2 separate regions of the Homo sapiens genome follow, and region 2 is linked to region 1. The links come from fine-mapping of genetic effects on gene expression. A gene starts in region 1. The other region holds a variant in brackets. All regions are shown on one strand. Distances are between the middles of the regions.

The links. PIP is the estimated chance that this variant, and not a neighbour inherited with it, causes the effect.
Region 2: its variant is the best candidate, but not a certain one, in a credible set for the expression of HID1 in lung (TOPMed, PIP 0.65).

The regions. Positions count from the first base shown.
Region 1 is chr17:74,970,272-74,975,637 of GRCh38, reverse strand. It overlaps HID1 (HID1 domain containing), which reads left to right and starts at 2,879. Exons shown (of 19, transcript NM_030630.3): 1 at 2,879-3,047. The coding sequence starts at 2,982. It overlaps HID1-AS1 (HID1 antisense RNA 1), which reads right to left and starts at 4,949. Exons shown (of 3, transcript NR_110878.1): 1 at 4,846-4,949; 2 at 908-1,070; 3 at 1-472. RefSeq lists a silencer at 2,815-2,924.
Region 2 is chr17:74,994,282-74,999,647 of GRCh38, reverse strand. CDR2L (cerebellar degeneration related protein 2 like) reads right to left here. Exons shown (of 5, transcript NM_014603.3): 2 at 32-144. Among named protein-coding and RNA genes, the nearest start is that of CDR2L, 9.3 kb to the right of the region's middle. RefSeq lists an enhancer at 5,175-5,366. The variant G/A (reference allele first, on the strand shown) is at 2,244.

The DNA of each region.
Region 1 (5,366 bases):
TTCCATGTCACTTGGGAGTTCCTGGTTGCAAGCCACAGAAATGGCTCTGAGTGATGGGCAAGACCAAAGGGGTCAAAATTTCACCCGGAGTGGCTGGTTAGCAAGAGTTCTCAATTCTTTTCTTCTCCTTCTTCTCCTCCTCCTTCTTCATACCTTCACTTGCCTTTATTATTTTTTCTTCTTTTTGAAGGCTGAGCACGGTGGCTCCTGCTTGTAATCCCGATGCTTTGGGAGGCCCAGGCAGGAGGGTCGCTTGAGCTCAGGAGTTTGAGACCGCCTGGGCCACATGGCAAAACCCCATCCGTATAAAAAATACAAAATTAGCCGGGCGTCATGGTGTGCACCTGTAATGCCAGCTACTTGGGAGGCTGAGGTGGGAGGATTGCTTGAGCCTTGGAGGTAGAGGGTGCAATGAGCTGTGATCATGCCACTGCACAGTCTGAATGACAGAGGGAGACCCTGTCTCAAAAAACTAAAAATAAATAAAGAAATAAACTGTTAGCATGTTGCCAGCTTTTGAAAGTCATTGTGCTAGCCATGTAGTGTTATCTTACTGTGGTTTCAATTTGCATTTCCCTAATGATTATGATTGAGAGTTTTTAATGTCACTCTGGCCTGGAATGCGGTTGAGTGATTTGTAGAATAGACTGGATTTTTTTTAATGCCAAATAAAGGAACTATTCATTCATTATCTTGGAATGATTAGAAAAGCCATGAAACCTGCCAAGGATTTTGCCCAGGGCGGGGAAAACCCACCTCCGGAGAAAGGCTAGAGCTACCCTATCATTGCCCTGTGGAGTTTGTTTGTTCCGTGAAATGGCGACACCCTTCGCACTCCTCTTTCCCTCCACACCCGCTCCACCCTGCCACACTTTTGCTCCCAGATGGCGTGCCCCTCATTTTTCACCTGTAGAATTCCTCTTTAAGTGAATGTCACATCCTTTTGAAGCATCTAGGGGCCAGGCATGGTGGCTTACATCTGTAATCCCAGCACTTCGGGAGGCTGAGGTGGGAGGATCCCTTGAGGCCAGGAGTTGGGGATTAGCTTGGGCAATGTAGCAAGATCCTGTCTATACAAAAAATGAAAAAAAAAATTAGCTGGGCATGGTGGTGTGCACCTGTAGTCCTAACTACTCAGCAGGCTGAGGCAGGAGGATTGCTTGAGTCCCAGCATTCGAGGCTGCAATGAGCTATGATTGCACCACTGCACTCCAGCATGGGCAACAGAGTGAAACCTCGTCTGCAAAATGCATGCATGCATGCATGAATGAATGAATGAATAAATAAATAAATAATAGGGCTGGGCATGGTGGCTCACACCTGTAATCCCAGCACTTTGGGAGGCTGAGGCAGGCGGATCATTTGAGGTCAGGAGTTCAAGACCAGCCTGGACAACATGGTGAAACTCTATCTCTACTAAAAACAAAAAAAAATTAGCTGGGGGTGGTGGCGGGCCCCTGTAGACCCAGCTACTCGGGCGGCTGAGGCAAGAGAATTGCTTGAACCCAGGAGGTGGAGTTTGCAGTGAGCTGAGATTGTGCCACTGCACTCCAGCCTGGGTGGGCGACAGAGCGAAACTCCATCTCAAAAAATAAAAAATAAAAAAGCATCCAAGATTTCCAGAAGCTTCCAGACATAGCTTGCAAAATGATGTTGTGGAAAAAGCGCAGCCTCATTTGGATGAGCTCCTTACTACCTGTGTGGCTTTGGGCAAGTAATTGCTTTAAGCCTCATTTTCCCCAAGTGTAAAATGGGGATAAAATAATACCTCAGAGGTAGCTATTAGAGATATCGTCATTGTCGTCTTGTTTTGATTCCCCCCCCCCCCCCGAGATGGAGTCTTGCTCTGTCGCCCAGGCTGGAGTGCAGTGGCGTGATCTCGGCTCACTGCAACCTTTGCCTCCCAGGTTTAAGCAATTCTGCTACTTCAGCCTCCAGAGTAGCTGGGATTACAGGCGTGCGCCACTAAGCCCAGCTAATTTTTGTATTTTTAGTAGAGACGGGGTTTCACCATGTTGGCCAGGCTGGTCTCGAACTCCTGACCTCGTGATCCGCCTGCCTCGGCCTCCCAAAGTGTTGGGATTACAGGCGTTAGCCACCGCACCCGGCCTTGTTTTGATGATTAATCTGCCTCTATTACAGGCTTATTTGGCTGTACCCTGGCCGCTTCTTTCCTTATCCCTCTCCCTAGCTGCTCGCCATAAAGAGCAGGCTGTACTACTTATGTCCGCTGTGTCCGTCCATGACACAGAGTTGGCAAATACCAGACCCTCAGCACATTTGTTGAAATGGATGAATCTCAAAGGATTCTCTGGGAATCTGGTGGCTAGAGAGGGGTCGGGACCGCGAGGGACTCTCGCGCTCAGCAAGGCGAGGAGCTGCTTTCCTGGAGTATGGAAACTGAGTCAGCGCCTCCCTCCCTCATAACCAAGGGCCTGCGGGACTGTCTGAACACGTGGGTTTGACAGGTCAGAAAAAGGGAGAACCAAGAGAGTGGATGCTCAGAAAACATGAATGGGAAAGACAGACTGAGAAGGAGGAAAGTGGGATGGAGAGGGCCAGCTGAGACGTGGGCCAGGAGCCGGAGCGGAGATGAAGGGTGAGGACCGGGGCGGGGGACGAGCTGCGAGGAGGGTTTTGGGCCCTGGGGACTGCGTGGTAGCAGCGGAGGCGGGTACAATGCTCCGACGCAGAAGGAAGAGCGTCGAGGCTCCGGGTGGGACCTGAGAAGGCACCCGGCGTGCGGCGGCGCTGGGTTGGAACCGCCGACTCCGCGGGTCTTCGGCGGCGGGCGCTGCAGGTGCAGGAGGCGGAGCCACGCGGGGGCGGGGCCTGTCGGGGCGGGGCCGACGAGGGCCGGGGGCGGGGCGCGCCGCTTGTCTCCTGCGAGAGCCGCGGGGGCCGCGGAGCTGGAGCCGGAGCTGAAGCCGGAGCCGGGTTGGAGTCTGGGCGGGGGCCGGGCCGGAGCGGGCTCCAGAGACATGGGGTCGACCGACTCCAAGCTGAACTTCCGGAAGGCGGTGATCCAGCTCACCACCAAGACGCAGGTGCGCCACGGGGGCCCCGGCGTCCCCATCCACCTGCCGGGCTGGGGGCTGGGCAGGGCCGGGGGTACGCGAACTTGGCTCGTCGGGAGATGGGGGGACGGGCGGGCCCCGAGCGTAACGCCAAGGCCAGCGCCGGAACGGGACCCCGCGGCCTGTACCTGGAAGCTCCATCCCCTGGCCCTAGTCCCCCACCCTCAGCCTCCTCTCCTGGGAACACCCCTCTCCCCGAAGCCGCTGCTGCCACCTTAGGCTGACGTGTGCCTACTCCCCGAGCCGGCGACACAGCTGTCCGCCCCCTGTCCCGCCCCGCGGCGTCCCCAGCTTCGCATCTCCAGCCTCCCGCCGCCCCCACCCACCCATCCACCGTCCGCTCCCCTCCCTGCCCCTCATTGCCCGCGGGTCCCGGACGCACAGTCCCTGTTGACTCAATGCAAACAAAGCCTGGCTGGCGTCCGCCCGGGTCGGAGAAACAGCTGGTGTGCGCGGCAGCGGCCTCGCTGGGCCCTGGTCGATGCCCGTGGGCAGGGAAGGCCCAGGTCTTCCTGGGAACACGCAAAGAGTGGCGGGCAGCGAGGCAGCCTGGTGGGGGGCCCTGTCCCCAGGCCTACTGAGCACAGCCTCCCAGCTGGGGACCTCTCCAGGGGCCTTCCCCGAGGCCCTGCAAGGGAAAGGCTGTTAGCCTGTGTGCTCTGTTCTCTGGCTCAGGGATGGGGACCCGCAGGATGGCCCTCAGTCAGCTGGTGAGGGGCCTAAGGACCCTCCAGCCTAGTCCATGCTCATAACTCTCCTGTGAGTCCACAAGTGGCCCAATAGCCACCTCCTTATACCACCTGGCCCCAGCAAGACTGCTTCTCTGCCCACCCCTTCTCTCCTGGCTTTTTGAATCAGGCCACCGTGGCCACAGAGATGCTCGGCCCTGACTCCCCATGTCCCCCATTTTCAGGGGACACAGGACCTGCTGCCATCTGGGATCTTCCTCTTTCCTGGCCCCCCCACCTCCTGCTCTCCAGGGCTCTCTCTTGCTGCTGGAGGTTAGAGTGGGATGGAGGAAGCCAGCTCCCACAGCCAGCTGGTCACAGCTCCAGGGGCCAGACCTTGCTCCCTCACCCCTTTCCCCACCCTGGAAGGGTCAAATGTGCAGCAAATGCCCAGGGCCTCTGGAGAGTCCAACCCCGGCTGAAAGGCTCTTGATAGAAACCAGACCGCACTTCTCTCCATTCCCTACGGCTCCTGGGTCGTTCTGGAGCTTGGCTTTTTTAGGATGGGGTTTTCGTTCTGTGGGTGGCAGGGAAGGTGGCAAGTGGGCTAGCCCCTCAGTGTAGGGCTGCAGGGAGAGGAGTGGGGAGGCAGGGAGGAAGGGAGGCTCCCATGTTTACCTGCCTGGGGAAGAAACTCCTTGTTGGAGGATTGCACTGTGGGCTCGGCAGCTGGGGTCCTTTGCCAGGCCAGTGGGGCCAGCTCAGCAGAGTACCAAAGGCTCTGGAGTGGCCTAGATTCCTACCTGCTCAGGCCTTTTCCCCAAAATACTGTGTCCCTCTGTCTTTCCCTGGCTACAGCCCTATGATGGGCCACTTGAGATGGTGCTGTTCTGTTTCCCAGCTGAGTAGGCTTGGAATAGAACCTGGATAGGCTGGAGATCAGACCAGCCTTCTGGAGAGCACTGGGTCCTGTAGGCGGACGGGGGCCTGGGCTGCCCGGGGGGAGAGGCCTTCAGAGGCTGAAGCCTTGGACTCTGTGTAAGTGACCTGACTTGGGTAGCTTGGGTGTGAGGATCAGAACCCAGATGATCATCACTGACCTTACCACTTGGAGTCCCCAAGGAGATTCAGGCCAGTTGTCCATAGGATGATATGTGGTTCCAGGCTCTTACAGGGTGTGGCTTGGGCAGTAGACAGGCAGAACTAGCCCCTTTTCCTGTGGCCTGGGCCTGTATCCCTGCTGCTCCACCTTCCTCGCCTTCCTGCCCTGCATCCTGTTTTCTTCCTGCCCCATGGTCCAGTCCTGGGTCAGGCCTGACCCTGGTCCTAAGAGCCAGCCGCTTTGGCTGTGTTTCCTGGTGCTTCCTCATAGTAGGTGGGGCTCTGGAGGGAGACAGTCCCAGACCTGGAACCCTCTCCCAGATCCTGCCTGTTTGGAATTCTCTGCTGCAGGCCAGATGAACCTGGCGGGTGCATATTTACATGTGTATACATGTATGTGCATGGGAATGCATGGTGACACAGTCCTCTAGAGCAGGCTTAGCAGGCTTGAGGACTAGGGGACCTTCCCCCTGCACACCCTGAGAGTCAAAAGATACAACTGCTCCCCCAGGTCTGAGTG
Region 2 (5,366 bases), 24 kb before region 1:
GGGTGTGGGCAAGCACATGCAGGGCCCTCACCTCGATCTCCTGCACCTGTTCCTCATTGGTGGAGTACATCTGCTGCAGGGACCCCTCCAGCTCCTTGTTCCTCTCCAGCAGAGTCTTCCCCAGCTCCGCAGCTAGGTGCAAGTCTAGGATAGGAGAAACACGAGCATGAGAACAAAGGCAGAGGACGCCCATTCATGTTCCGAGCATCTACTCTAGGTGACCCCAATGTAACCAAGACACTGGGAGCCTCCAGGCCTGGGAGGAGAGGTAAGCCAGGAGCTAAGCCTTTGCACTGTTATTTCTGCCTGGAATGTTCTTTTTGTGTGTGTCTGTGTGTGTGTGTGTGTGTGTGTGTGTGCAAGATGTAATAAAAAACAAACAAAAATAGGAATGGTTGCTTTCAACATTTTCCAGGTTGTGAAAGTTTTGCCACGATTCTCAGGGGTGTGGTTCTAAGCTGCATCAGTGGAACAAATACAAAATGCTGTCCTCCTCCTAGGCTGGAAGGCAGTGCACCTTCTCCTCTTAACAGCCAGACTAGCGGGTGAGGAGTCAGTGCTGTGCCCAGGCCAAGCTGGAGTGTCCGCATGGCTTCTTCTCTGACCAGTGGGGATTCCATCTACCTTGAGGCATGCTGGCTGGGCCCTGTTTCCACACCAGCGCATGGTGAGACAGCGTAGCTTATCAACAGGCTGCTGGGCCTTAATACTGACAGTGAGTGTGGCGGATCACAGCCAGGAAGGGACTAACACAGATGCCCTCCCAGCCCCACTGCTGGCCTAATTTTAGAATACCACGGAAAAAAGCTTTGATGAAGACAACAGGAAGTCAACACAGCAGAGAGTGGTGTGGACAACCCAGAAGCCAGCCTCACGCACGGAATATTCTTTCCTGATACTTCCAGGACTTGTTCCCTCTTCTCCTTCAAGTCTGTGCCTGTCAACTTCTCTAGATCTTTCCCCAATCACTTGATTCAAAGTCACACTGTTCCCTGCCCTGCAGTCTCTCCCCCGCTTCATCTTTCTCCTTAGCACTTAGCACCATCTAATTTCCCAAGCAAGTTACTCCTTTATCTTTTTCAGCTCCCCCAACTAACTGTGAGCTCATGGGGCAGTTTTTTTTTTCTTTTAAGGGATGGGACCCAGGCTGGGGTGCAGTGAGTATTCACAGGTGTGATCATATGTGCTGCAGCCTTGAACTCCTGGGCTCAACGATCTTCCTCCCTCAGCCTCCCAGGGCAACATAGTGAGACCTCATCTCTATTAAAAAAAAAAGAAAGGTGGTGCAATACGGCTGCCTGGGATAGGATCCCTTGAGCCCAGGAACTCAAGGCTACAGTGTATATGATCATGCCTGTGAATAGGCGTGGGACTATAATATCGGTTGCTGGGACTACAGGAATAGTACAATGTTTTTTTTTTGAGACGGAGTTTTGCTCTTTTTGCTCAGGCTGGAGTGCAGTGGCGCGATCTTGGCTCACTGCAACCTCCGCCTCCCAGGTTCACGCTAACCATTCTCCTGCCTCAGCCTCCCAGGTAGCTGAGACTACAGGCGCCCGCCACCATGCCTGGCTAATTTTTTTTTATTTTTAGTAGAGACGGGGTTTCACCGTGTTAGCCAGGATGGTCTCAATCTCCTGACCTCGTGATCCACCCGCCTCGGCCTCCCAAAGTGCTGGGATTACAGGCGTGAGCCACCGTGCCCGGTACTTTTTTTTTTTTTTTTTTAACTTCTAAAATCTTTTTTATGCCGGGATTACAGGCACCCACTACCACGCCCGGCTAATTTTTTGTATTTTTAGTAGAGAGGGGGTCTCACCATGTCGGCCAGGCTGGTCTTGAACTCCTGATCTCAGGCCTCCCAAAATGCTGGGATTACAGGCATAAGCCACCACACCTGGGCTAAAATTCTTAAATTTTTTTTGTAGAGACAGGGTCTTGTTATATTGCCCAGGCTAGTATTGAACTCCTGGCCTCAAGCGACCCTCCTACCTTGGCCTCAAAATGCTGGTATTACAGGCGTGAGCCACCGCACCTGGCAGGGCAGGGATTTTTATGTTTTGCTCATGAATATCCCCAGGACCCAGGACAGTATCTAGGACAGAATCAGTGCATAATTTGTCTTTTTGGAAGATTAAGTGAGTGATAAGAGCATGGACGGACATAGGGGCAAGGTGCCGTGGGGTGATGGGCAAGGGAGAGCTTCACTCTCCCCGGGAGGCTCAGGCAAATGGACAGCTTTC[G/A]AGTTGGACTTTGAAGGGTGGATAGGAGGCTGGGTGCGGTGGCTCACGCCGTAATCCCAGCACTTTGGGAGGCCAAAGTGGGAAGATCACTTGAGGTCAGGAGTTTGAGACCAGCCAGGCCAACATGGTGAAATCCTATCTCCACTAAAAATATAAAAATTAGCTGGGTGTGGTGGCGCAAGCCTGTAATCCCAGCTACTTGGGAGGCTGAGGCAGAAGAATCGCTTGAACCTGGGAGGCAGAGGTTGCAGTGAGCCGAGATCGTGCCACTGCACTCCAGCCTGAGTAACAGAGCGAGACTCAGTCTCAAAAAAAAAAAAGAAAGAAAGAAAGAAAGAAAGAAAGAAAGAAAGAAAGAAAGAAAGAAAGAAAAGGGTGAATAGGAGCTTGCTGAGAGGCAGAGAGAGCAGAAGGGCTTGCTGAATATTAAAACTGGAAGATGATTCAGAACTTCTTGGCCCAACTTCTTGATTTTATGGATAATGAGCAGGACAGCAGAGTGACTTGCCCATGGTCACCCAGCTGGTTTATGTCCACGCTAGGGGGAGAATTCAGGTATCGGGCTCCTGGTTGGGTACCATTTGACCCTAGTGACATGTGCCCAGCTCTCAAACCTTCTTTCCCTGAGGAGCAGAAACATCCTCTTCCCCCAACAGCCCTGGTGCTTGTACCCTGTAGGATTGGAACCTTCCCTCCCTGACCCCAGTCCAAGGGAAATGAGGACCCATCAGATAGGCTAGGAGGGAATCTGTCTGTTTTTAGGGGGATGTTGTGGGGGATGGGCGGGTAGAGAGAAGGAGTTAGAAGGAAACGGCAGGTACTAAAATCCCTAAAAATTCTCTTGGTGGGTCTGAGTTGTGTGATGATAGCTAGACATTTGGAGTGGATACAATCCTCCCAACAACACACATATGTATATTAAATATATTTATTATTTTTTGTTTCTTTTTTTTTTTTTTTTGAGACGGAGTCTCGCTTTGTCTCCCAGGCTGGAGAGCAGTGGGGCAATCTCGGCTCACTGCAACCTCCGCCTCCCGGGTTCAAGCTATTTTCCTGCCTCAGCCTCCCAAGTAGCTGGAATTGCAGTCGCCTACAACCACATCCAGCTAATTTTTGTATTTTTAATAGAGATGGGGTTTCACCATGTTGGTCAGGCTGGTCTCAAACTCCTGACCTCAAACAATCCACCCACCTCGGCCTCCCAAAGTGCTGGAATTACAGGTGTGAGTCACTGTGCCTGGCCTGTTTTTTGTTTCTAAAACGAGGCAGGGTGATAAAAATATTCTAAAATTGATTGTGGTGATGGTTGCATAACTTTGTGAATATAATAAAAACTGTTGAGTTGCACACTTTAAATGAGTGAATTGTATTGTGTGTTAATTAAATCTCAATAAATCTGTCAAAAAAAAAAAAGATTTAGGCAGCTTAATCCAGAGACGGAGAAGGGTGGGAGAGAGCGGGTCCTCAAAGAGGTCGTTAGAGCAGGCTGAGGCTGAGTTTCACAAGGCTGTTTTCTTTTTAAAATAGCTTTAATGTTTTTCATAAGGCATGATTGGTGTAAAAAAATCAAACAGTACAGAAAGGTTAAAAACTGGTGATTTAGGCCGGGTGCAGTGGCTCATGCCTATAATCCCAGCACTTTGAGAGGCCGAGGAGGGTGGATCACTTGAAGTCAGGAGTTCGAGACCAGCCTGGCCAACATGGTAAAACCCTGTCTCTACTAAAAACAAAAATTAGCCAGGCGTGGTGGCATGTGCCTGTGGTCCCAGCTACTTGGGAAGTTGAGGCAGGAGGATCACTTGAACCTGGGAAACAGGTTGCAGTGAGCCGAGATTGTGCCACTGCACTCCAGCCTGGGTGACAGAGAGAGACCCTGTCTCAAAAAAACAAAACAAACAAACAAACAACAACAACAAACTGGTGATTTAAAAATTAGAGGCCAGGCCGGGTATGGTGGCTCACGCCTGTAATCCCAGCACTTTGGGAGGCCGAGGTGGGAGGATTGCTTTAGTAAAGGAGTTCAAGACCAGCCTGGGCAATATAATGAGACCCTGTCTTTACAAAAAATAAGAACATTAGTGGGGTGTGGTGGCATACACCTGTAGTCCCAGCTACTTGGTGAGCTGTGATTGTGCCACTGGACTCCAGCTTGGGTGACAGAGTGAGACATTGTCAAAAAGAAAAAAAAAAAAAAGAAAGTGTAGACTGGGCACAGTGGCTCATGCTTGTAATCCCAGTGCTTTGGAAGGCTGAGGTGAGAGGATAGCTTGAGGCCAAAAGTTAGAGACTAGCCTGGGAAACACAGTGAGACCCCATCTCTTTTTTTTTTTTTTTTGAGACTGAGTCTCACTCTGTCGCCAGGCTGGAGTGCAGTGATGAGATCTTGGCTCACTCTGCAACCTCTGCCTCCCAAGTTCAAGCAATTCTCCTGTCTCACCCTCCCGAGTAGCTGGGACTACAGGCGCGTGCTACCACGCCCAGCTAATTTTTGTATTTTTAGTAGAGACGGGGTTTCACCATGTTGGCCAGGATGGTCTCGATCTCTTGACCTCGTGATCCGCCCACTTCAGCCTCCCAAGGTGTTGGGATCGCGCCCTACCCGAGACCCCATCTCTACAAAAAAATTGTAAAATTAGCCGGGCATGGTGGTGCATGTCTGTGGTCGCAGCTACTAGAGAAGTTGATGTGGGAGGACTGCTTGAGTCCAGGAGTTTCAGATTAGAGTCATCTATGATTGCAACACTGCATTCCAGTGAGACAAAGCAAGACCCTATCTCTGAAAAAAAAAGAATGAAACTAATTAACTTTGTTGTACAAAACGTTTTGTGCAAATCACCGCCCAATTCCTTAGGACACAGAATTCCTTGAACAAAGGGTAAGCCTAGGTACCTGGAACAAAAGGTAGGCCTAGATACAGAATTCCTAGAAATACAATTCCTGGGACAAAAGGTAGGCCTTCTTGAGGCATTCTGTCAAAAGACTGTCCAGGAAAGCACTGGTCTGTTTCATTTTATGAGGCTGCTTCTTAAAACAGCTCTCAATCTAGGCTGACGATGTAAATCAGATCAAGATGCATAAAGGCAACTCTACTGGGGCCAATATGATGTGGTTCAGGGATCCAGT